2 separate regions of the Homo sapiens genome follow, and region 1 is linked to region 2. The links come from fine-mapping of genetic effects on gene expression. A gene starts in region 2. The other region holds a variant in brackets. All regions are shown on one strand. Distances are between the middles of the regions. Region 1 overlaps POMT2 (protein O-mannosyltransferase 2). Region 2 holds the start of NGB (neuroglobin).

Region 1 (2,906 bases), 24 kb before region 2:
GGTGGTCAGCCATGTGCAGGGCTGCCGAGGTTGGCCTGCCTGAGAACTCAGAAGAACACAGCTGTGGAGTTTAGCAAATTCCTGCTCATTATTTAAAGGCCTAGTTCAGCTGTCACCTCTTCGATCAAGTCGTCCTCTCTTTAATCCTTGGGAGAGAATTTGGCCTGTTCCGAGTTCCCACCATTCCCACCATGTCACACATTGTCACGCCTTTGTGGGGCACTTGCCCACTGTCCTATACTTGTCAGTGTGTGAAGCCATCTTCCTTGTAGACAGGGCTCTTCCAGGGCCACAGGCAGGCCTCCTCCACCTTTGGATCCAGTGTGTAATTCTTCTGGTCCACTGAATGAACAAAGAAAAACAGGAGCAGGTCATTCCAGCGGATTGGAAGAAGGACAGTATTAAGGAAAAAAGGTTTCTCAATAACTCAGGGCCTATAGGAGCAGGGGATGCTCTTGAGAAGTGGTTTTCTGTGTTTTTTGTTTTTTAATTCAGAGTAAAACAAAACACCATTGAACAGTTATTTCATATGGTACTAGATTCAAAAGGCACGAAAGGATATAGAGTGAAAAAAATGGTTTGTCAAAATGCTGTATCTTGGAGAACATTCCAGGCGAAGACAGAAGATACTTCCTTCTTTATTCCATTGAATCCATGTGGAGACCTTGAGAAGGACAAGTTGTTTTTCGTCTTTTGCTGTTACACGTAGTGCTTTGATAATGACAGTGTTAACACAAGCTTCTTCTGAAGCCCTCAGGAGGCGGGGGAGTAAGTGGGCCCTGTGGTGAACTCTGTCTTGAGTCGGCTCCATGGGAGTGAGAAGGTAGCTGGGCTTCAGTCCAGGGCCCAGGGGAGTCTCGCAGAGGGTTAGTGAGCCCTGTGGCTTCCGAGGCTCCTCGCAGGCACGGACAGCCTCTGGCACTGTGCCAGCTCACCCCTCTGCTGTCTCCCTTCCTCCCAGACCTGGCCTACGGCTCTGTGATCACTGTGAAGAACCTCCGGATGGCCATCGGCTATCTGCACTCCCACAGGCACCTCTACCCCGAGGGCATTGGTGCCCGTCAGCAGCAGGTCAGTGAGCCTTTTGTGCACTTGTACGGCAGCAATGCTGTTCGCCATGACAGTTCACTCTCTTGCCTCCTATCCTTTGCTCATCCTGTTCGCCCTGCTTGAAACATTCTTCCTAGCCCTGCACCCTTCTGTTTTCTCTGGCTAACCCCAGCTTCTCTAGGCATCAGCATAGGTGTTCTTTAGTGACAACCATGTCCCACCTCTCCATGGTGCTGGGTGGGGTGCCCCTCTGATGAGAGGCTTGGTGGCACCTTCCACATGCCTACGTGGTAAACCTTCTCATATTGAACTGTGCATGCTTACTTCCCGCCGTCTCTTTGGTACTTGATTGCTAGCTCCTGGAAGGCTCAATTGCCTAGCACGGTGCCTGCTATGGGATGGGTGATGAATAAAGTGTGGTATTTATGAACACAGACCTGGGAACCAGACTAGATGATCGGGGTGTGAAGCCTGCTTTCATATAGAGTGTCACTTTGGACAAGTTCATCTTCTTGTGCTTCAGTATCCTCTTCTTTTTTTTTTTTTTTTTTTTGAGATGGAGTCTTGCTCTGTCACCCAGGCTGGAGTGCAGTGGCGTGATCTCA[G/A]CTTACTGCAAACTCCGCCTCCCGGGTTCACGCCATTCTCCTGCCTCAGCCTCCCGAGTAGCTGGGACTACAGGCACCCGCCACCACGCCTGGCTAATTTTTCGTATTTTTAGTAGAGACAGGGTTTCACCGTGTTAGCCAGGATAGTCTCGATCTCCTGACCTCATGATCCACCTGCCTCGGCCTCCCAAAGTGCTGGGATTACAGGCATGAGCCACCGCGCCCAGCCTGTATCCTCCTCTTTAAGTTGGGGAAAATGAGTAGTACCTCTCTCCATCAAAGGGCAGTTGTGAGGATTAAATGAGATAACAATGTGAAGTGCTTATGAAAGATTAGCCATGTGAGTATCATCTGAATGAGTGAACGATGCTGTGTCCATGTTAAGGAGTGTTTGTGTGGCTGCAGTGGATGGTGCCTGAGAGGGAGAAGCAGGATGCTGAAGAGGTTGGTGGGGCCATATTGGGGAGAGGCCTGTGTTATAGTAGATTTGACTTTGCTCCATAGACATTAGGGAGGCAATCAAAATTATTATGATTATGATTAGATCTCTAGTTTAGAAAGGTAACTTTAGTGGAAATGTGATAGCTCACAAGGAACCAGTTTGGAGGCAATAATTATGACAAAGGACAGTGAACAGAGGCAAAAAGCATGGAATCTTTACTTTGCAAAGATTTGTTCTTTGCAAAAAGTTGTCTCTCTCCAAATGCTTTATTTTTATTTCCCTTTTAGTTGCTAGAAAGTGACTCAGTATGTATTAGTGCAATTTCATGCTGCTGATAAAGACATACCTGAGACTGGGCAATTTACAAAAGAAAGAGATTTAATTGGACTTAAAGTTCCACATGGCTGGGGAGGCCTCACAACCCCGGTGGAAGGCAAGGAGGAGCAAGTCACATTTTATGTGGATGGCGGCAGGCAAAGAGAGAGCTTGTGCAGAGAAAATCCCATTTTAAAAATGGTTTTAAAAACCATCAGATCTCTGGCCAGGTGCGGTGGCTTATGCCGAGGTGGGCGGATCACTTTAGGTCAGGAGTTTGAGACCAGCCTGGCCAACATGGTGAAACCCCATCTCTACTAAAAATACAAAAAAATTACTCGGGCTTGATGGCACGTGCCAGTAATCCCAGCCACTCAGGAGACTGAGGCAGGAGAATCACTTGAACCGGGGAGGTGGAGGTTGCAGTGAACTGAGATTGCGCCACTGTACTCCAGCCCAGGCAAAAGAGTGAGACTCCATCTCAAAAAATAAAA
Region 2 (2,906 bases):
CCTGTGACCTGCTGCACCTGGCTGCAGGTCCACGGGACCCCAAGCTGGAAGTTTAGTCACGTCTTGTTCCTTCAGCCCCAATCACTTTGTGTTCTTGCTTGGAGACCTCTTGGACCCTAGGACACCAGCTTTTCCAGGCTGCCTTATAGCCTTGCTCTCCTGCTCCAGCCCAGAGATTTGTGAGGAAATGGGAAATAGAATAGGGGTTACCACAAACTCCTGAGTCCTTGGAAGAGGGAGAACAGCTAGATGATTTCCTGGGGCATGGCTAGGAGTAGGAAAGAAAAGTTCTGCTGAGGCACTCAGTTCTGATTCAGGGCCAGAAGGAGAAATTTTAAAGACCAGGACTCGCCACTCCATGTCTAGCACAGGGCTGGGCATGGAGCCCCAGCTGTTCATAACCAGGGGCTCAAGAACACCCACCTTCTACCCATGGAACTAAAGGAGGTGGACTAAAAGGTCCCAGAGACCTCACCACCCAACCCCTTTGCTGCACAACTGAGGAAACAGGGCCAGAGAGGCGTGGACAGACAGAGGAGATAGGCTCGGAGACCCCTGAGGGAATAATGAGAGAGAAATAAAGGTGAAAACGGGCTTGCTCTCCCAAACCTGGGCCACCAGCACTGGGCTGGGGCTTGAGGAACTTTCTGCTTGAAAGAGAAAAGTTTAGTTGTAATTGGCAGGTGGCCAATTGCACACCCTGAGTGGGGAGCATGGATTCTATTATCTGAACTTCTATTGAAAAAATTAAACAGTACTTCCGTTAAAAAAAAAAAAAAAAGGCCGGGCGCAGTGGTTCACGCCTGTAATCCCCAGCACTTTGGGAGGCCGAGGTGGGCGGATCATGAGGTCAGGAGATCGAGACCATCCTGTCTAACACGGTGAAACCCCGTCTCTACTCAAAATACAAAAAATCAGCCTGGCGTGGTGGCGGGCGCCTGTAGTCCCAGCTACTCGGGAGGCTGAGGCAGGAGAATGGCGTGAACCCGGGAGGCGGAGCTTGCAGTGAGCCGAGATCACGCTATTGCACTCCAGCCTGGGCGACAGAGTGAGACTCCGTCTCAAACAAACAAACAAAAAGATGAAAAATCATGGAAGTGGGGAAGGCCCAGGGAGGGAAGAGGTGAAAAATTAAAATTAAAATTAAAATTAAATCATGGAACGGTAGAATGTTAGAGCTGAACTCCCTCAAGATTCCACCCTGGCCAAGCAGAGCTGGGATTAGAACTGGATCTCACGGCTTTCTAAAGATGGAGTCTCAAAAAAACCCAGGCCTGGCTGGGAATGGCTGTGGTCTTGGCCCTGTCCCTACGGCTGAAAGCCCTGGTGGCCCCCAACGTGTGCTGGTGCCCTAGTCAGACCGAGAACTAGGCCCCTAGGCCGCCTCCCCAGGCCTGACCTGCAGGCCAGGTGGGTGGCAAACTCAAATGCCTCTGGCAATGCGTGAGTTGAGGGGCCTGTGGAGAGGGGGCGCATGCAGCGCCTACCTGAGGCGACCAAATTCAACACAGTGCCCTCGGGGCTCGGGAGGAGAAACTGAGGCCCAGAGAGCCTCCGCGATGTCAGTTACGTTCTGCAGGCCGGGCCTTTCCCAGGCCACCATAGCGGCTGGCGGAGGGAGCGCGCGCCTTGCTGGCCTGGAGGGGGCGGGGGCCGTGGCGGCTTTAAAGCGCCCAGCCCAGGCGTCGCGGGGTGGGGCGGCTCTGGCGGCTGCGGGGCGCAGGGCGCAGCGGCCAAGCGGGGTCCCCGGAAGCACAGCTGGGGTGTCTCCACCTACGACTGGCCGCGCGCCTTTTCTCTCCCGCGCCAGGGAAGGAGCGGCTGCGGCCCCCGCCGGGCGGAGGCACGGGGGGCGTACGAGGGGCGGAGGGGACCGCGTCGCGGAGGAGATGGCGCGGCACGTGCGGTGACGGCACCCGAGCCCTGAGGGTCCCAGCCCCGCGCTCCGCGTCCCCGGGACAGCATGGAGCGCCCGGAGCCCGAGCTGATCCGGCAGAGCTGGCGGGCAGTGAGCCGCAGCCCGCTGGAGCACGGCACCGTCCTGTTTGCCAGGTGAGGGCTACACGAGCGCCCGGGGATGCGGGTGGAGGCTGCCTCGGCGGGAAAGGGGTCACGCGGCAGGACCGGCCCCGAAGGAGGGAAAACTGGCCGCTGCCGGGGCGCTGGGGCGCCTGCCAGATGTGCGCCAGAGGAGCGGGGCGCGGCGACGGGTGGCACAGCCCCTCTGCCTCTCTCTCGACCGTGGGCGCCTGTTGCCAACCAGCGCCGCACACCACTCTCCCAGCGGGGCTCACCGGGCCGGGCGGGATCCCCTCCCGCGGATCTCCCCACATCTGGGCGGGTGGACCTCCGTCCCTGCGCGGCGCCTCCACCCCGCCTTGTGCCTCCTGCGTCTTCCTTAGGTAGCGACTGCAGGGGTGCACCCCGCTGCCGGTATCAGGGTACTGGGGTGCCCCGAGAGCCGGGGAAGGGAGATGTGTGGGGCGAGCTCCTGCGCCCGCGTGTGAGCGGTCTGGCTCCAGGTGTGTGGATCCCTGACAACCAACAAGACAAACCTTTCCGAGGAAAGAGCCAGAGAGCAGCCGGGGAAGGGGTGACAGATGCGGGAGCCTCACCGCAGGGGAGAGGGGTGGGGGGTGTGCAGGCCGGGTGGGAAGGGAAGGCCAGTCTCCAACCTCAGCTCGCAGTTTTGGTAACCCTTCCGCTATCACCAACCGGGCACTGCTTCCCTCACCGTGGTGTTACCTATCCTTGGCACCCTTGGACAGTCCAGAACTTCTACCCAGGCTTCCGCAAAACCACCCCCAAGACAAAAGGGGAAAACATTCAGTTACCCGGTGAGACCTCCCAAATGCCGAGGAGGGCCTCTGCTTCTGCCTCCGGACTCCCCCCAGCTCACTTTTTTC

Evidence for each region.
Region 1: its variant is fine-mapped to the expression of NGB in nasal epithelium (TOPMed, PIP above 0.99).

Annotation. Positions count from the first base shown.
Region 1 is chr14:77,294,329-77,297,234 of GRCh38, reverse strand. POMT2 (protein O-mannosyltransferase 2) reads left to right here. Exons shown (of 21, transcript NM_013382.7): 9 at 962-1,071. Among named protein-coding and RNA genes, the nearest start is that of NGB, 25 kb to the right of the region's middle. The variant G/A (reference allele first, on the strand shown) is at 1,656.
Region 2 is chr14:77,269,995-77,272,900 of GRCh38, reverse strand. NGB (neuroglobin) reads left to right here and starts at 1,695. Exons shown (of 4, transcript NM_021257.4): 1 at 1,695-2,052. The coding sequence starts at 1,964.